5 linked regions of the Homo sapiens genome follow. The protein of the gene in region 4 purifies or fractionates together with the protein of the main gene of each other region. This does not show direct contact. Each region holds a gene or a part of one and is shown on either strand. Other genes may lie near its edges. The genes, in order: MLLT11, POTEE, CHP1, ECT2L and PKP2.

Region 1 (4,045 bases), on a different chromosome or scaffold from region 4:
AAAGCCTCGTTTCCTTATCCCAACCTCGGCTGCAGCTGTTTGGGACGTTCCTGGCTTTGTGCATTGGGTTCTGGTGCCTGATGGACACATTTTTCCAGTTACAGGCCGAATGTAAGGACCCCAGAGCCAAGCTGTCAGTGAGAACAGTGAAACAAATAACTGAGTCATTTCTTTTCTTTCTTTCTTTTTTTTTTTTGAGACGGAGTCTCGCTCTGTCGCCCAGGCTGGAGTGCAGTGGCTCGATCTCGGCTCGCTGCATGCTCCGTCTCCCGGGCTCACGCCATTCTCCTGCCTCAGCCTCCGGAGTAGCTGGGACTGCAGGCGCCCGCCACCACGCCCGGAGATTTTTTTGTATTTTTAGTGGAGACGGGGTTTCACCGTGTTAGCTAGGATGGTCTCGATCTCCTGACATCGTGATCCACCCGCCTCGGCCTCCCAAAGTGCTGGGATTACAGGCGTGACCCACCGCGCGCGGCCTTTTTTTTTTGAGACGGAGTCTCGCTTCGTCCGTCGCCCAGGCTGAAGTGCAGTGGCGTGACCTCGGTTCGCTGCAACCTCTGCCTCCCGGGTTCAAGTGATTGTCCTGCCTCAGCCTCCCCAGCAGCTGGGATTACAGGCGTCCGCCACCACGCTGGGCTAATTTTTGTATTTTTAGTAGAGATGGGGTTTTATTTTACCATGTTGGCCAGGCTGGTCTCGAACTCCTGACCTCAAGTGATTGGCCCGCCTCGGCCTCCCGAAGTGCTGGGATTACAGGCGTGAGCCACCGCGCCCGGCCTGAGTCATTTCTTTTTGGAGGCCTGCAAGAGGATGGAGCATGAGTTTGCAAATCCATTTAGTCACTTTATTTACCAAACAGTTGATCCCTGTCTCCACCCACCAATTGCCATGGCTGAAGGACTCTGAAGGGGCCCTTCAAAACTCAGTAAAAATAGAAAAGGACGCACTACTTATCCTTCCTGGCCCCATTCTTCGTTAGACTGGGACCGTCTTTAGATGTGGGCTTTTCATGGCCTAGAGGGAGGATTTGTCTTTTTTTCTCCCACCTGGGGACTTCTCTAGATCATCCTTATTTAGGGTATAGTGTCATCCTTATTTATAGTACACTGCCCAATTCTGTCCTATCCATATTGGTATTTACAGTTTCTCTTTTGAGAGTTGGAGTCTTGTCTCATTCCCGTTTACATTCTGTTTGGCTCAGTGCTTTCCTATAGCAGGCACACAAAAACCAGAAGTTAAGCAGATAACATATTTGAGTGAATTCGTTTATCTTCTTAGGCACCTAGGAGAATTATTACCTGAAATATAATGTTGGTAGTCAGTGGGCAAGCAGAAGAGTGGTTGTACCTGTCTCCCTAACTACTTTTCTAATTTTAAGTTGATTTTGCCCTTTCATTATCTGTTCAATGCGAAGTTCACCATCTAATGTCTAAATGCTACTCAAATCATTCTTCCTCTAAGTTGAATATTATTATAGAAAGATAAAATGAGGCCGGGCTCAGTGGCTCACGCCTGTAATCTCAGCACTTTGAGAGGCTAAGGCGGGCAGATCACCTGAGGTCAGGAGTTAGAGACCAGCCTGGCCAACATGGTGAAACCCCGTCTCTATGAAAAATACAAAAATTAACCAGGCCTGGTGGCAGGCGCCTGTAATCCCAGCTACCTGGGAGCCTGAGGTGGGAGGATCCCTTGACCCTGGTGGGTGGAGGTTGCAGTGAGCGGTGATCCCCGCCACTGCACTCCAGCCTGGGTGACAGAGTGGGACCCTGTCTCAAAAATAAAAAAGAAAAAAAAGATGTATAAGCTAAGTGTGAAAGCAAGGCTAATTTCTCAGATTTCTGTGGCTTTTCTTGTGAAGAGAGAAAATTAGACTCCAGTCCTGGGATTGAATGTCTTTATTAAATAAACGAGTAAATGGTAGCACAAATCACCATCAATATTTTTGGAAGGATTGGGGACAAGATGTCGAGTCAGAATATAATTGTTCATTTCAGGGTCTCAATGTAGCTGAAGAACTGTGCCCACTGATCAGTATTACGTATTGCAAATGCAGGAGGTAAGGCTAAAATAGGACTTATGCCGTTCAGAAGATTGAATTGAAACCTTAAAAACTATCATAATAGTAGGAATGCATGTTAAGATTTGATAACTTTCTTTAGCTAGAGTTTTCAACCCACAGTTAGGAGCAAAGTTGTAAAGTGAGTAGGTGTGAAGAAGGGACACTCTTTTGAGAAAAGAAATTAGCTACTTCTAAAATGATTCAATTATTTTCCCTATTTTCATTTTCCATAATATTTCCTCCTGTTTTATACCTCTAACTACCCTCCTGATTTCTCTGAGGAAAAAAAAGAATATAAGAGCAGGATCAAAAAAAAGCAAGAGACTTATCACTTTAGCCTTTTAGAAATACTGTTTCGTAGCAGATAACCTCAAATTAAAACTTCCGAGGTTTTCATCACCCCTTGAAGAAATATTTGTGTTTACTGCCCTGGAGCAGGAAATTAGGAAGGTTTAAGGAATCTCTGAAGCTGATTATAATAGAGTCAAAAATCAGTCTTCCATTTTGCACTACTATACTACTCTCAGGTGTCCCCAGTCAGGCCTAGTTTCTGGAGTTAATATTTGGGGGGGAAAGGAGGAATCCCTGTGACCCAGTACTCCATTGCTTGAACCATTTACTTTGTGACTTGAGGGCTTTTGAGAGAAATGGAGTAGACAGATAGATAAATAAATACATAGAACTCAACTCTGGCAGATTCATCAGCACCACCAACACAGTAGGGAGAGAACAAGATTAAAATGGGAAAGGAGTGGAAAGGAAGGGGCTTGAGAGGGAAGACAATGAGGGCAAGGTGATGGGAGAGAGAAGTCTTGGCCTTAGAGCAAGTCCAGTTCGAAGGAGTGGATGCTGGCAATGGGAGCTCTCCAGAAGTTGAAGGTGCTGTACTCAAGGAGGCCATCACCTTCAGGGTTTTTCTCCTGGTCTGCTGCAGTTGCTTGCCCGATCATTTTGCCAACGCTGCTGTCTTTGACCTTGTAGGTGGCTGTATCTGACAGACCCAGGCCTTCCAGCTCCGACAGATCCAGTTCTGGGATGGGCATCCTCCAGAAAAGAAAGGAACTGTACTGGCTACTCACAGGGTCCCTCATAGCTTCCTAGAAAGAAACCACTTGTCAGTCTTCATGCTACAGCAACTTCTTTGTGGCCCATGGCCTTTCCTTGCTTAGATACTCCACATACTGGTAAAAAGGAATTTCTTTTTTTTTTTTTTTTCTATTAAAGAAAGAAAATTGTATATCCTCCAATCCCACCAGTAAAAAGGAATTTGGGGAGGAAAAAAAAGAAACTCACCATCCCCAATTGCCTCTGGAGAGAATCCAAGTTCCCTTGGACAAGCTTCAGAAACCCTTTATTATGAATTTCTACTTTTTTTTTTTTTTTCTCTCAATGAGACGGAGTCTTGCTCTGTCGCCCAGGCTGGAGTGCAGTGGCACGATCTTGGCTCACTGCAAGCTCCACCTCCTGGGCTCACACCATTCTCCTGCCTCAGCCTCCCGAGTATCTGGGACTACAGGTGCCCACCACCACGCCCGGCCAATGTTTTGTATTTTTTAGTAGAGACGGGGTTTCACCATGTTAGCCAGGATGGTCTCGATCTCCTGACCTCGTGATCTGCCTGCTTCGGCCTCCCAAAGTGCTGGGATTACAGGTGTGAGCCACCGCGCCCGGCCGAATTTCTACTATTTTCTAAACTTCCCATCTTGGAATGACTTATTTACCATCTATTGCATCAAATTGATCTTGGGTCTGATTTTCAAGGCCTTCCAAAATCTAGCCCATTCTTCCCAGCAGTGGTATATCCTCTGTTACAGTTATGCTCATTCCTGTCTTGCTTAACTCTCTCCATTCTCCACCTTAAAATACTTTCCGCATTTCAGCCAGGTGTGGTGGCTCATGCCTGTGATCTCAGAAGTTTGGGAGGCAGAGTGGGTGGATCACTTGAGGCCAGGAGTTTGAGACCAGCCTGTCCAACATGGGGAAACC
Region 2 (4,221 bases), on a different chromosome or scaffold from region 4:
TTCAATCATTGATGTTACTTTCTTTATCATGTTAGGGTGTTGTAAAAATAAAAGAACAAACAAAGTTCTGAAATTTGTTTTTGCCTCTATTCCAAAAGGAGAGATTAGCTATAAGCTAATCAAGAAGGCAGATAAGAATATTTTAAAATAAGAGTATTTTAAATTTTATAGTGGGTTATGTTGAAGTTAAATATCAAATATTAAATTAGAATCTATTGATTCTTCTGTTAATAAGGTTGCTGATTTTATTACAATAAATTTTAAGAATCTATTAAAATTTTTTTTTTTTTTTTTCACATGGAGTCTCGCTCTGTCACCCAGGCTGGAGTGTAGTGGTGGATGTCGGCTCACTGCAAGCTCCCTCTCCTGGGTTCATGCCATTCTCCTGCCTCAGCCTCCCGAGTAGCTGGGACTACAGGCACCCACCACCACGCCCAGCTAAGTTTTTGTATTTTTACTAGAGACGGGGTTTCACCATGTTAGCCAGGATGGTCTCGATCTCCAGACCTCGTGATCCACCTGCCTCAGCCTCTCAAAGTGCTGGGATTACAGGCGTGAGCCACCTTGCCTGGCCAAAAGATTCTTAAAAAAACAATCTACTGATTCTCAAAGCCTAGTCTGAAAGGTAATTTCATTTGGACTATCTAATATTATTAAGGCAAAAAAAACACAACATTAAACAAAAGTTTAAATTTAAAAGTTTCCATGCCTCTGGCTGGCCATTTTCACTGCCTTTAAGCCTTTGTGACTCTTCCTCTGATGTCAGCTTTAAGTCTTGTTCTGTTGAAAAATCCATACATTCAGTTAAAATCAACCACTTAAAACAGTTAAAAACTATTGCCTTTTAAAAACAGATTTGAGACATTTCATTTTATTTCATAAATTGAGTGTTTCATCTTTTGTGAAATTGTCATTTAAGAAATAATTCTCAAAAACTTCAAAAACCCACTTGGGGAGATAGCAGATGTCACCAGATTGAAGACAAACAAACATGTCAAAAATTCCCTCACAAATTCATCCACCCAACATCCATGAACAAAACCACCAGAAACACAGCTTTAAAATACAGTAGAAACATATAAGGTGACACAGTGTACTGTTCTCCACTTCCTAATAGTACCTTATAAATGATTTCCAAAATCACTGCTGACACCTTTATTAGTGTACAACATCTTCCTAATATCTAAAATGTTTCTCTCCACTATTCTGACAAATTTATTTTCTTTTTTTCTTTTTTCTTTTTTTTTTTTTATGAGCTAGAGTCTTCCTCTGTCACCAGGCTGGAATGCAGTGGTGTGATCAGCTCACTGCAACCTCCGCGACCCTGGTTCAAGTGATTCTCCTGCTTCAGTCTCCTGAGTAACTGTGATTACAGGCAAGCACCACCACACCCAGCTGATTTTTGTATTTTTAGTAGAGATGGGGTTTCACCATTGGACAGGATGGTCTCGATCTCCTGACCTCGTGATTCCCTCTGAAAGTGCTGGGATTACAGGTGTGAGCCACCACACCTGGCCTTATTTTCATCTTTTGAAACAATGCTATATGAAGTTTTCCTTGATTCTGCATGTCTTTCCCCAAATAAACAGGTACCTCCTTCCTTGAGGCTGCCTTAGTACTTTACTGATTTTTCTACTGCATCTTGACCACCTAAACTGTACATTATTCCTCCACGTCTGTCCCCTCTGCTCCAAGACTGCAGGGGAGAGTCTTGCACATCATCTTTGTAAAAACAGTCTTTGTTTTACTCAGAAATATTTTATTGAGTCCTGCTAAATACATGCTAGGCATTAGGGTTTAAAAAGAATTAAAATAAAGCATGTCAGAGATGGCTTTTCTAGAACACATGCCCAAGCAGAGACTTAAATATTGAGACTAGCCAGATTAAAAGGTGTAGAGGGCAGGAAAGGGTGACGGCATGCCACGCAGCAGCAAGAGCGGGAGCGACTCCTGAAAGAGTGAAAGTATTTGCCTACAATAGAAGGATGAGTGAGTAGGGCACTGCCAGCAGTTCAGTAATGCCAGAGACAGGGCACACAGGGAAAAGGGCTAAAGATGGAGAGTGGGGCAGAAGTCAGATTATGAAAGCATTATGTGTAATTTTAAGATGCTTGAACATTAATGTTCAAAAGTGGTCCCGGGTCCTATCTGCATTTAGATATAGATCATTTCAATGCCAAAACCAATATTCCTAGTGAACAATTATTCATTAAGACAAGGTGACAGATAGCTCATGTGGACACAGCTGAGATGATACAATGTAGCAAATTCTAAACAATTCTCATGAACACTTGGAAAGTCAGTTCTATAATAAAGTCATACAAATTATAATAAATCAGTAAATATTTGGTTTCGGAAGATGCTTTGTAAAGTTATAATGCATATGAATACAATTAACAGTCGTGAATTCAGAGCTGTGAAAATAAATCAAAGAAACCACATTGTGTTTGAGTCAGCAATCTTTAGATTTCTATCCAGTCTTCCCATCCAGTCCATAAATTCTAAGTATAATCCTGGTACTCACTCTCAAGTTTACGTTAAATACTATCCCATTACAAAAAAACACTCTTTCTCTTACTTCTTTTCATTATGTCCTGCTAAAAAGATTCTGATTGGCTGCAGGCGGCAAGAGGGAAAAACACAAAGCACATTTTGCAGAAAATGATTATTTAGAAGTCAGAACTATGACATGAAGCCAAGCAGGGCACTCTAGGACCGAATTTGCTGTGCTGCCTTCATACGCTCCTTGCTCTTTCTTTTCTGGCAGCTGTGACTCACACAGGTCATGGAGAGTATCATTCCCTAAGAGGAACAACTCCGATATTCATCTTTATCTATTAAGTTCATCTGTCCCAATTCTGTGTTCTGTGGATGCTGACTTTCTGTCACGGACGATGATGCACATGGACATTTATTACTGACTTTCAGATTCTTGGATCTTTGACAAGTCTTATTACTTAGAGTCAAACTAGTAGGATGCGAGTTATAAATGCTGATTATCCAATTACCTACTCAAAATACCCTACACGAATATTCCATTAAACATGCATCGAAAAACATTAGTCATTCCTGCTGACCTGCTGCTCTTTGCTCTTCTGTATTCACCAGAAAATTTCCTACTCCTTCCTCATGTCCAGGTTAAATACTAGTGTGCAATCTGGAAACCTGTACATCATCTGAGATTTCTCTCTGTCCCCCAAGCCTTTCTCATTCAATTATCACTAAATCATATTGACTATACCTCTCTTCTGCCTCTGTTTTATATTCCCACTGCCACTGGGAACACAAACATTTACAAAATGACTTCTATTTAAAAGAAAACTGCCAACTATTAATGTTATTTCTTACAGGAAAAAAAATTAAGCAAAACAAGTGAAAAGGGCATAACGAAGGCCAACATAGTAAAATGAGTAACTGAGATTTCTAACGTTATTTATTTCACCATGGACGGGTGAAAACCTTGTAATACATTGATGCTACTCCAAGGATGTGTGACATGGAAACTATAGCTGACTACTGCAAAAGCTTCCTTTGTCTCCTGGTTTCTTTGCATGATTATCTCCCATCAATCCCAGGAAACTATAGGCCACAGGCCAAATCCAATCTGCATTATGGTTTTGTAAATAAAGTTTTATAGGAGCTCAGTCATGCCTGTTTGCTTACATATAATCATGGTGGCTTTCACACTACAACAGCAGACAACAGCACGGTTAAGTAGATATGACAGAGACCACATAGTCCAAAATATTTCCCACCTGGTCCTTTAAAGAAAAAGCTTGCTAACCCATTTTACACCATAACCAGAATGCCTTAATACTCAAATTTAATCTTGTGGCTCCCCTGCTCAAATTTCTCCAATGAGCCCCCTCCAGCACACATTGTTGGCTCCCTATCAATAGCCATTCCTCATTCTTTCTGGCAGAAAAAACATAAGTCTATTGGGATATTTAATATCCCAATCCCCCTCCTCAGCCTCAGAAAGAAATGTTTATTCTAAGCTAATCAGATATTTACCTTCCCAGTGCCTGGTTTGGGAATGAGCATGTGGTATGACCCAGCCAATGAAATGTTACAGGAAGCCCCTTGCATGCTTCTAAGTTTTCTCCCTGTTTAAAAGACACATGTGAAGAAAAGCAGCCCTTTCGATGTTGTGTTGTGAAAACAAGATGTTTGGAGCTGCTGCAGATTAGCCAACCACAAAAGGAGACGTGAATAAAACAC
Region 3 (4,221 bases), on a different chromosome or scaffold from region 4:
TGAAAAAAAGTTGGCAAAGTGACTCTCCTGGGTTTACTTTTCATTGCAAAAGGTTTGGATACAAAGCATAGCTGTGAAAGTTATCTCTGGATAGGGTTCAATGCTTTGCAGGGGTAAAAGAGGAATTAGAAAAAAGGAAGAATTCAGCATAAAAACCACACCTGAAACAAACAGGGCAGTTCAAGGAGAGAGAAAGGAAAAAATGAAAGAGGGCATAAGATTCCTCATAGTCAACGTGATTTGATTCCCATCTTTACATGAACTAACTGCCCGACCTAATTCCCCTTCTGACTTTCACTCACATTTCCTGAATGCCCAACCCTCTCAACTAGCAAATTCCTTTGCTCTCAATTTAGAGTTCTAAAATTTCCTCTCCAGGCATTTTATCTGACAGTGTCCTCATTGACAGTCTCATTATTAAAAACTGGCACCCATATAATATTTTGAAGTCCTGTGGGTCATAGACTATCCATATAAACCAGGAATAGATTGTTTAGGAAATTACTTAAAACAAGCTTATATGTAAGTTTTATTGTTGAAAAGGTACCTAATCAAATCAGTAAATATTTACTCACTACTGTGAAGGCAGTGTATTAGGTAGTAAAGCATATCAAAAGACTAGTTTCATGTTAGAAAAACCCACATTAAGAACAATCTACTTGACAAAGCATATGTGGTGAGAACTATGTTTATTCAATATCACGAAAGTAAAATAAAGGCTGGGGAAATGTTCCAGATTAAAGGAGGCTAAAGAGACATGACAACTGACCCAGACTAGATCCTGTACTGGAGGCGGGGAAGTGCTATAAAACAGATTATTGGATGACAAAATTGGAATATGAATATAAATTAGAATAAACTGGATAATATGTTAATAAAACAGAGTAATAGATTAGATAAGAGGATTGTATCAATGTTAAGTTTACTGAAGTAGATAACTATACTATGGATATGTAAAAGAATGTCCCTATTCTTAGCAAACACACACTGGTGCATTCAGAGGTAAAGGGTCATTACTATGCAACTTACCCTGAAATAGTTCAGAAATACAATTATGTGAACACACATACACAAAAAAATTACATAAGTATGTGTATATACATACATGTATGTATGTGTATGTATGTACGTACATGTAGGCATGTATGTATGTATATACACACACACGTAGAGTATGTGTAGGTAGAGAGAGGGGAAAGAGAGAGGGAAAAAGTGTCTGCAAGAGAGGGTATGTAGAGTAAGCACGGGTGTACAAGCTGCGCTGTTCAATACTGCAGTCACTTGTCACATCTGGTTATGTGCACTGAAAACATGGTCAGTCTGACTTGATATGTGTTTAAGTGTAAATTACACACTGGATTTCAAGGACTTATTATGAAAAAATGTAGGCTGGGCATGGTGGCTCACGCCAGTAATCCCAGTACTTTGGGAGGCTGAGGCAGGCGGATCACCTGAGGTCAGGAGCTCAAGACCAGCCTGGCCAACATGGTGAAACCCTGTCTCTACTAAAAATACAAAAATTAGCCAGGTATGGTGGCATGTGGCTGTAATCCCAACTATCTCGGAGGCTGAGGCAGGAGAATCGCTTGAACCCGGGAGGCAGAGGTTGCAGTGAGCCGAGATGGCACCACTGTACTCCAGCCTGAGCGACCGAGCAAGACTCTGTCTTAAAACAAACAAACAAACGAAAAAAGGATCTCAGTTATTTTTAATATTGATTATATATGGAAATAATATTTTAAATATATTAAATAAAATATATATTACCAAAGTTAACTTATTTTTACTTTTTAAATGTGGTTACTAGAAAATGTAAAATTACGTATGTGGCTTGCATTATATTTTTATTGGCTACTACTAAGAAGAGAGCACACAAATGAGGCAAAATGTTAACAATATAACAGTAGATGCATCAGGGCAATAAATATACAAGTATTCTCCGAATTACTTTTAACTTTTGCAACTTTTTTGTAAATTTGAAATTATTTCCAAATAAACATTTTTTAAAAGTCTAGTTTTACATCAATGATAAACATAAGAATTTTGAAGATAGGCTCATATATCTATTTGAAGTTTAAAACACACAGGAGGGTAGAACAGAAGAGATATTCTAGAAATGACAAAATTAGAATTGCTCAATATAATCAGGGGGTATCACAGTCTGAGATGGCACAACCAATATCATTATTCCAGATTAGCAAATAATTTAGGTTGTGATAGCCTCAGGAAGGAAGTCCAACAACTGTACTGACTCACCCCTCTGGAAAGAAGGCATTGATGATCCGGTCCCCCAGTGGGTTGATGGCAAGTTCTGGAATCCTCTGGAAATCTTCCCGGCTGCCAAGAGAATCACCTTGAGTTAGATAGAGATCATTGCCCTTAGCATGAACTCCTTAAGTCAGGAGGTAACAGGGTGTAACCTAGCAAGAATATTACCTCCTGGAATTTACTTCTGTGGCAAATTATACCAAATAACTGCAAAGAATAGCACTTTAATAGCTGCCAAGTGTTTCTTGCACCAACTCAGAAGTGGAAGGAGCCAGATTTGATTACGCCACATTCCAGTGAATTTAGCACACAGGTTACGTCAATAAGCCAACTGATGGACAAATACTAAGCTGTCCCTTAGTAAATGATTTCTTGAACATTAGCATTGCGTACCTAGTTATTAAGTTTGGAAAGTGAACAGCAAATGGAAAGTATCAAATACTGCAGAACTTGAATATGGGGACAAACACTTAGAGGGGTCTCCATATCCTTGTTAAGATTTTTAGGCACTTACAAAATGCAAGGAATTCTTAGGTGCTATTTACATGCAAGGAAATAATGTGACAACCAATTGATTTCCTTGTTCTGACTCTGGCTTTTTCTCCATTTCCATGTTCTGTGGACTAGGGCTACAGAAGTATTTAACCCTCAAACATGACAAGAGCAGTCATCCTCACATGACTTAGGCGAGGTTATACCAAAGCGAATATTGTCAGTTACCATTCATCACATATATATCATGTGCTGCTCTGTTTACATACATTATTCTCATTTCTTCACGCCAATGTTTTATGTATACCCTTTTAGAGCTGAGGAAATTGAGAGTCAGGAAGATAAAGTAACTTGCCCAAAGCCACACTACTCCTAAGTAGCAGAACTGTGATTTAAATCTAAGTCTGTAAGTCAAAGTATGTGTTCTTTTTCTAAAAACCATATTTCTTTCCTATATTGAACTTTTTTTTGAGACAGAGTCTTGCTCAGTCACCCAGGCTGGAATGCAATGGCATGGTCTTGGCTCACTGCCACCTCCACTTCCCAGGTTCAAGCGATTCTCCTGCCTCAGCCTCCCAAGTAGCTGGGATTACAGGCACTCTCCACCACGCCTGGCTAGTTTTTTGTACATTTAGTAGAGACGGAGTTTCACCATGTTGGCCAGGCTGGTCTTGAACTCCTGACCTCAGGTGATCTGCCGGCCTCGGCCTCCCAAAGTGCTGGGTGGGATTACAGGAGTGAGCCACGGTGCCCAGCCCTAATATTGAACCTTTTGAATGAAAGTTACTCTCCCCCAAATTCTTTATTTTTATTTTTTTGAGATGGAGTTTCGCTCCCAGGCTGGAGTGTAGTGGCTTGATCTCTGGGTTCACTGCAACCTCCTCCTCCCGGGTTCAAGCGATTCTACTGCTTCAGTCTCCCAAGTAGCTAGCATTACAAGCGGGTGCTACCATGCCCGGCCAATTTTTGTATTTTTAGTAGAGGTGGGGTTTTACCACATTGGCCAGGCTGGTCTTGAACTCCTGACCTCAGGTGATCCACCCACCTCAGCCTCCCAAAGTCCTGGGATTACAGGCGTGAGCCACCGCACCCAGTCCCCCAATTTTTCAATAAGTATTTTTTAAAAACTTTCTTTTGTTGGTTCCTGGGCCAAGAATACAAAGCTGTCTACAACTTATCTGTGCTGCAGTCTTCAAAAATATCAATGTCATGGAGGACAAAGAAAAGCAGAGGATTGTTCCAGATCAAGGGGGGGCTAAAGAGACACACAACAAAACCCAACACATGATCCCGGACTAGGAAAAAAACTGCTATAAGGACATTATTGGATAATATGTGAAAATGAAGCATGGACCATATAAAATATGGAATATTACATAATGGTACTGTTTCAAAATGCAACTTTCTTGATTTTGATCTGAGAATGTCCTTTCTATAGGAAATAAACAGTGAAGTATGTGA
Region 4 (4,221 bases):
TGTTTTGTGTATTTATTTATTTTATTTTATTTTTTTCTTTTGATATGGAGTCTTACTCTCTTTTCCAGGCTGGAGTGCAGTGGTGTGATCTCAGCTCACTGCAACCTCCGCCTCCTGGGTTCAAGCAATTCTCCTGCCTCAGCCTCCCGAGTAGCTGGGACTACAGGTGCATGCCACCATGCCCAGCTAATTTTTGTGTTTTTGGTAGAGACGGGGTTTCACCATGTTGGCCAGAATGTTCTCGATCTCTTGACCTTGTGATCCACCCACCTCAGCCTCCCAAAGTGCTGGGATTACAGGCATGAGCCACCTTGCCCAGCCTCTTGTTTTATTTTTTAATGCAGAGGTGAAAATCATACACTGGCCTAAAGAAATTCCATACCCTGATGTTGTGTGTGCTATGTTTATATGGAGAGAGAAATTAATTTTTATTGCTGGTACTAGATAATTTTTTTCTTTTATTTGCATATTTCAAAAGCTATAAAATGAGCATCTTTATACCAGAAAATTTATAATATCTAAATTTCAAAAACATAATGTCCTTCAATTTTAGCCTAGAATTATTATTTTCCCTCCAGCCCTAAGTATACCCCACACTGCCCCCAATAAAATATGACAATACTGCTTCTGCCACTTGTGCTGCTTGCGGACCTGAGGTGACTCCAGCACTCAGCATGGTGAACAGAAAGCTCAAGGAAGGGTCAGAACTGCTCATATTAATTTTAGGGTGGTGGGCAGGATGGTTCCTTGGTGCAATTTAAGATTAACAGGCATACACCACTTAGTAAACTAATGAAAGCCTATTGTGAATAGCAAGGCTTGTCAATGAGGCGGATCAGATTCCAATTTGTCAGATGGCCAATCAATGAAACAGACACACCTGCAGAGTTGGAAGTGGAGGTTAAAGATACAATTGATGTGTTTCAGCAGCAGGCAGGAGGGGTCCAGTAAAAAGAGAACTTGCTATTTTACGCCAGAGGCTATTCTTACAGACCAAGACTGCATTCTCAACTAAAAAACTGCAATCTGGTTCCACTACATCCTAACTATTACAGTATAGTTTGCTCTATTCTTTCATTTCCTTCCCCATTCCTTTATTGTACATAAGGTAACTGATGAATATGCACAAGCATTTTTAAAAAAATTAGTGGCTAATGGTATGGCTAATGTATTCGTGGCTAATGGTATACCATCAACATCAAATGGAGATGAGAAGGGGAAAAATGCTTCTGTGAAAAGACCTCCTTGGCCACGTGCGGTGGCTCATGCCTGTAATCCCAGCACCTTGGGAGGCTGAGGCGGGTGGATCACCTGAGCTCAGGAGTTCGAGACCAGCCTGACCAACATGGCAAAACTCTGTCTCTACTAAAAATACAAAAATTAGCTGGGTGTGGTAGCACATGCCTGTAATCCCAGCTACTCAGGAGGCTGAGGCAGTAGAATCACTGGAACCTGGGAGGCAGAGGTTGCAGTGAGCCGAGGTCATGCCACCGCACTCCAGCCTGGGCAACAGAGCGAGACTCCATCTCAAAAAACAAAAACAAAAACAAAAGGACCTCCTTTCTCCCTTCGTGGCATGCTCATTCAGCAGTTATCTTTATATTCCAATCTGTTATCTTGCTCTCATTGTTTTAACAACAGCAATATATGTATATATGTATGTGTGTGTGTGTGTGTGTGTGTGTGTATATATATATGTATCTAAATCCTTGCATACCTTGTTCAATTGGAGAATTCTCATGTTTTTCATTTATCATTGTAACACAAAGGGCACATTTTATAACGTTTTCGTACATACCTCTTATATGTAGGGCAATCTGTCTTTAAGTGAGGATCCATTAGTTGATAAAAATGATTACCAGATAGTTTTTCCTTCAAGTCAAACACCTTGTTGTTTAAATAAGTGCCTTGTTTAAAATGAAAAAATGTGTAATGCTATGTGATCTTCACCAAGATGAGTTAACCATAATTTCATTAACTGGAATTATAATGTAAAAAAACTTAAGAGAAAAATGAGAGAACTCACTGTATTTGAAATATTATAAACACACTCTTCTTTTTTTACATTTTTTATTTTGAGACAGGGTCTCCCTCTGTCACCCAGGCTGAAGTGCAGTAGTGCACTCATGGCTCACTGCAGCCTCGACCTCCCGGGCTCAAGCAATCCTCCTGCCTCAGCCACCAGAGTAGCCACCACAACAGGCTAATTTTTGTAATTTTTTTGTAGAGACAGGGTTTTTCTATGTTGCCCAGGCTGGTCTCAAACTCCTCTGCTTAAGCGATGCACCTGCCTTGGCCTCCGAAAGTGCTGGGATTACAAACATGAGCTGCCAAACTCTTCTTGTTTATTTTCCAAACACATGGTCTGTCTAGAATACCTATTTAGACATATCTAATAAGGTAAAAAATACATCTGCATCCTACTTGGCAGTTGGCTTACAGTCCATATTATTTTTTTAATATTATATGTGTATTTCTGTATGTATATATTTTTACATATTGGAGTTATCCAACATTTATAATCATTTTGAACTAAGGTTTTCATTGTCAAACCTTGTGTTGTTATCTTGAAACCACTATGAGGTATTATTACTAATAGTCAGATGAGATACCCTCATATCCACTGCTCTATGGAACATGCTCCTCCTGGGTGTTCCTAGGGATGGGTTTGGGGCAAGTGGGCATCCATGTCCTGGGGCTCCACGGCCTGCACTGTCTGCAGCCAGGGTGTCTGGGGCTGGGAAAGAGCCCCAGGTCTGAGCTCAGGGCTGCAGGACTTAAGATTTTTCTTGCCCAATTGTCTGGCCTTAGGGAAGTCATTTGACTTTTTTCCCCCATGTAACTTTTCTTAACTCTAGTTCTTTATCTATAAAATGTGGCTAGGGATGTGTCCTTTATAGGATTCTGAGAATGAAAGGTGATAATAAGTGTGTTTGTGTGTTGAAGAAAACAAAACAGTGTGCCCATGCCGTGGGTTACACAGGACGAGACCGGCCCCTGCTGAGGCTGCAGCTTCCTCCACACTTTACCCTTGACACAGAAAGACGGAGCCCTAGACATTGTGTTCATTAGATTCAACTTTTGAAGTCAGACTGTAAGTTGGTAGATTAATTAGAAACTGTGAGCCTTTGTCCATGTGCCATTTCTTTAAAAGACATCCTAGTACCATAAAGGAAAGTCAGGGAGTAACATACAGATTGGTTTTGCTCCAAGATGTTACACTGCTATCCTTCTGGCTCAACTTCTTTTCAGTCTGGGGCTTATTTGAAAAAAAAGTCTGCCAGCTGAATTCTCTCTAATAATTTTTGAGGTTTTTTTTTTTTAATCCCCCAAAGGGAAATTTTCAAGGAAAATGAAGAACTAACCAGAATAAAGGCTGAAATTTCACTATCAGGAGCAAAACCAATGGTAAAGTTACATTATATAATAGCTTACCAGATTAATCAGTGCTTCAAAATTTAAATCATTTTTGCTGAGCCTGGACTTTGTGTCCCAAGAATTGTCTTCTACAACATTTCTTTCCTGAAGATTGAATGGAAACTTGGTTATTGGAGGCAGGTCTTGACATCTCTGAAAACTCAGTACTGTGCCCGCAGGAGGCCCTCAGAAGCCTCTGCCTTCAGCCCCAACCACAGTGTTCCCTACACACAATGAGTTAAGTGCTTGCAAATGGGATGCCACTCTTACATTCAATTTTATGTTTTTTAAAAATAGCCTTTGCTTCTTTTGAACTACATAATACTTGAGAACTAAATCCAGCGTAGCTCCCTCTTCCTTGGGAGCCAGGGAAGTGATGCTGGGCTGGGGCTCCTCCCAGGCTTAAAGACTCACACACATTCCTGGGTAACAGACTTCTTTTTTTTTTTTTCTTTTTCTTGAGATGGAGTCTCACTCTCGCCCAGGCTGGAGTGCAATGGCACAATCTCGGCTCACTGCAACCTCCGCCTCCCAGGTTCAAGCGATTCTCCTGCCTCAGCCTCCTGAGTAGCAGGCTTACAGGGCCCACTACCACGCCCCACTAATTTTTGTATTTTTAGTAGAGATGGGGTTTCACCATGTTGGCCAGGCTGGTCTGGAACTCCTGACCTCAGGTAATCTGCCCGCCTTGGCCTCCCAAAGTGCTGGGATTACAGGCATGAGCCACCAAGTCTGGCCAGGTAACAGGTTTTTGCCTCAGCTCTGCTCTGTTCCTTCTCAGTTGAGGGCAAATAGGTTATTTTT
Region 5 (3,482 bases), on a different chromosome or scaffold from region 4:
AAAAATAGGTGTTTTCCTTTGGGGATTTTTGCAGCCGAGAATACTTTGTCATTTTCCTCAGTCTTTAAGGGAGTGGTAGGCTTTGGCAGTCCGGCTGTTGACAAAATCTGTCTTCTTAAACTGAGCCTTTGGAATAAGCAAACAGAAACGTGAAAGGTAACAAAACTGGCACACAAGAAAATGCAGTTTTTTAGCGATTTCTTCCCAGGGTCAAGTCAAGTGGGCCATTATTACCTGGCTCTGTTAACTATGACACATTCCTTGTTCATGTTCTTACCTTCTTGTAGGCATGATGCAGTTCCGTGTGTGCCCACAGAGAATACAGAAGGACGGAAGCAGCTTTACTTGCTTTGTTGGAGGCATAGCTGAAAAGAAAAGGACATTCTGAGATCAGGGAGAATGAGTGAGGCTTCTGGATGCGGCCTGTGGGTGTTCTGTAAGACCTCTTCGCTCCTCAACTGCTACTCCGCAGCAGCCATCCATGAAGTCAGGCCACTCGGTGACCAGACAATTAGGCAGCAAGCTCTGCAAGGCGGGGACCATATCTGTTTTTGTTTTCTTTTTAAACCACTAGCACAGTGCTAATAAATAAATAGTTTATAGGCCAGGTGGGGTGGCTCACGCCTGTAATCCCAGCACTTTTGGGAGGCTGAGGTGGGTAGATCACGAGGTCAGACCATCCTGGCCAACATGGTGAAACCCCGTCTGTACTAAAAATACAAAATCTAGCTGGGCGTGGCAGTGTGTGCCTGTAATCCCAGCTACTCGGGAGGCTGAGGCAGGAGAATCACTTGAACCCGGGAGGCGGAGGTTGCAGTGAGCCGAGATCACGCCACTGCACTCCAGCCTGGTGACAAAGCTAGACTCCATCTCAAAATAATAATAATAATAATAAACAAACAAGTAATTTATACAGAAAAATCCCTGATATTTATAAGGAATGTATCTTTAGATATGTTATAAATCCTTGAATTATTTATAGAATATAATCTATATTTGTATACTTATAATGTATGTTTATAGAATAAAAATGCATGAAACCATGACTGAAAAATACATACGATTTTGTGACATCATGAATGTAGGAGTAATTTTTCAAGTCAATAAAAGAAATTCTTGTGGCAGCCCTTGTTAAAGCAGTTTCAAAATCTCTTTACGTTTCCATATAGAGCAAATGGAAAACTTGTTCTTGCTATAAATCAAAGTCACCACTGCATTTGAACTGTACTTAGTCTTTCATATTCTGCTTTTTTTTTTTTTTTTTTTTTTTTGAGGCTGGAGTGCAGTGGAGCGATCTCGGCTCACTGCAACCTCCGTCTCCCAGGTTCAAGCGATTCTCCTGCCTCAGCCTCCGAAGTAGCTGGGACTACAGGCGCATGCCACCACGCCAGGCTAATTTTTTGTATTTTTAGTAGAGATGGGGTTTCACTGTGTTAGCCAGGGTGGTCTCGATCTCCTGACTTCATGATCCGCCTGCCTCGGCCTCTCATAGTGCTGGGATTACAGATGTGAGCCACTGTGCCCAGCCCATGTTCTGCTTTTAACTTTATCCTAAATGTCCCACCTCTGGCTTAGATCAGTGCCGCCTTAGATCTCTTTCTCTTCTATCACCTGATTAGCACATGGCTGATTTTTTTTCTTAAACAAAGATTCTTTTTCCCCCCATATCACAGGCATTTGTAAACATAAAACCAAAACCAGAGAGTGCAAAGATGTACGGAGAAGAGCATGGTGTGTTCCTTCAAGAGTGAAAAGTCTTTCTCCTCCATACTAGCCTGGCAGGGAGGAGCAGTCAAATCAGCACTTATTAGTAACCCCTGGACTTTTCAGAATCACTTGGTAATAACTGAAGGGCAAATAAATCCATCAAAGTGATGGGTCTCTAATATTCAAAACTGTAAAAAGTTATTAAATTGCAAGGCTGTTATATTCATAATATTTGTTTATAAGTTGGTTGTTTGATACTTGGTACTCTTTTATTCAAAGATGTAATGTTATAAATGATAATTAGTTCCCAGGCTAGTCCACAAACGGTAGGTCAGATATATAACACTCTAGTAAGGAAAGAGCAGCAGACACCACTGGCAAGAAGCTCCTTGTTAACTTTTGTTTTTGAGACAGGGCATGTGAGGACTCACAAGTGGACACTCGGAAATAAACAAGTAACAGAGTAGCTCACCCCTTATCTTGCTAAGCTACCAGAAGTTTCCAAAAGTAATTGCATATTGCCATGTGCAACAATTGTTATGTCTGAATACTCGAATAATGAGCATCATACTATCTTACGGTGATTTGCTTGGAAGTTTGGATGACTATTTGGAAGAAAAGTCATTTCTGTTTTGCAACAGTAATTCACTCTTTCCACAAAGACTGAGCAACTCTAATACTATCTGCCAGCCTCTGGGGATGGGTGAATATTCTTGGGGAACTGACACTCCAGCCAGTGCTCAGGGCTTGTTTTAATCTGACTCTAAATGCAGTCTTCCTTCCTTGTGTGCACTGCAGAGTGGGGCTGCAGAGCAGAAGGGGCCTAAATTGGGTGGGGCTGTAGTAGAGGTAACATGTACATCCCTGTACAGCCAAGCACACATTTCTTCAGTACAGGTGAAGTCATCTGCTTTGTAACTCATTAAAACTAGGCTATCATAGCCATTTCTTTTCTTGTTTGGTTATTTACAAAAGTAACATATCTATTTGTAATAAGTCAAACAATTCAGAATTGTATAAAGAGAAAAAGATAATCTTCATGCCCCTTTCCAATCTCATCACTCTAAATTAACTAATAGTAAATAATTTGGTTATACAAGGTTTTTCATTCTCCTCCTTTTTTTTTTTAATAGGGAAAAGTTGAAAACAGGAACACAGATGTGGAATGACATGCATTGGACCTTCTATTATCAAAAGGGAATAAGATGCGGAAGAGATAAGACAGAGAAAAAACTGTGAAAGCAAGACTTTCTCATCAGGCTACCCCCTGACTGCTTCTCCTGTGTCATCACTGCTGCTGCTGCTTTTTTTTTTTTTTCTTTTTTGAGACAGAATCTCACTCTGTCAACCAGGCTGGAGTGCAGTGGCACGATCACGGCTCATTGCAACCTCTGCCTCCTGGGCTCAAGTGATTCTCAAACCTCAGTCTTCCAAGTAGCTAGAATTACAGACACGCACCACCACACCCAGCTAATTTTTGTATTTTTACTAGAGACAGGGTTTTGCCATGTCGGCCAGGCTGGTCTCGAACTTCTGACCTCAAGTGATCCATCTGCTTGGGCCTCCCAAAGTGCTGGGATTACAGGCATGAGCCACTGTGCCCAGCCCATCACTGCTTCTTCTAAACCACCTGGTGTGACATCCCCTCCTAAGATGGAAGTGAGGAAAAGGGCACTTGCCTATTCAGAGGACTCCTGCTTTGCCTACATTCTGCTGTTATTAAATCACAGCTGTGGCTTTGGGAAACTAATTCATTAGGCCAATACAATGCTGGA

What was found.
Region 1: the proteins of ECT2L (region 4) and MLLT11 purify together in Homo sapiens (affinity purification with mass spectrometry; one large-scale study listed by BioGRID and IntAct). This does not show direct contact.
Region 2: the proteins of ECT2L (region 4) and POTEE purify together in Homo sapiens (affinity purification with mass spectrometry, with the first as the bait; one large-scale study listed by BioGRID). This does not show direct contact.
Region 3: the proteins of ECT2L (region 4) and CHP1 purify together in Homo sapiens (affinity purification with mass spectrometry; one large-scale study listed by BioGRID and IntAct). This does not show direct contact.
Region 5: the proteins of ECT2L (region 4) and PKP2 purify together in Homo sapiens (affinity purification with mass spectrometry; one large-scale study listed by BioGRID and IntAct). This does not show direct contact.

What each region holds. Positions count from the first base shown.
Region 1 is NC_000001.11:151,066,330-151,070,374, reverse strand, and holds the end of MLLT11 (protein AF1q), read right to left. Parts: intron 3,157-4,045; 5' UTR 3,151-3,156; coding exon 2,878-3,150; 3' UTR 831-2,877; downstream 1-830. UniProt on the Homo sapiens protein: Cofactor for the transcription factor TCF7. Involved in regulation of lymphoid development by driving multipotent hematopoietic progenitor cells towards a T cell fate.
Region 2 is NC_000002.12:131,247,337-131,251,557, reverse strand, and holds part of POTEE (POTE ankyrin domain family member E), read right to left. Parts: intron 781-4,221; coding exon 710-780; intron 1-709.
Region 3 is NC_000015.10:41,255,026-41,259,246, reverse strand, and holds part of CHP1 (calcineurin B homologous protein 1), read right to left. Parts: intron 2,548-4,221; exon of another isoform or gene 2,437-2,547; intron 2,338-2,436; coding exon 2,257-2,337; intron 1-2,256. UniProt on the Homo sapiens protein: Calcium-binding protein involved in different processes such as regulation of vesicular trafficking, plasma membrane Na(+)/H(+) exchanger and gene transcription. Involved in the constitutive exocytic membrane traffic.
Region 4 is NC_000006.12:138,875,773-138,879,993, reverse strand, and holds part of ECT2L (epithelial cell-transforming sequence 2 oncogene-like), read right to left. Parts: intron 3,523-4,221; coding exon 3,436-3,522; coding exon of another isoform or gene 3,415-3,435; exon of another isoform or gene 3,396-3,414; intron 1-3,395.
Region 5 is NC_000012.12:32,792,367-32,795,848, forward strand, and holds part of PKP2 (plakophilin-2), read right to left. Parts: intron 366-3,482; coding exon 278-365; intron 127-277; coding exon 58-126; coding exon of another isoform or gene 1-57. UniProt on the Homo sapiens protein: A component of desmosome cell-cell junctions which are required for positive regulation of cellular adhesion.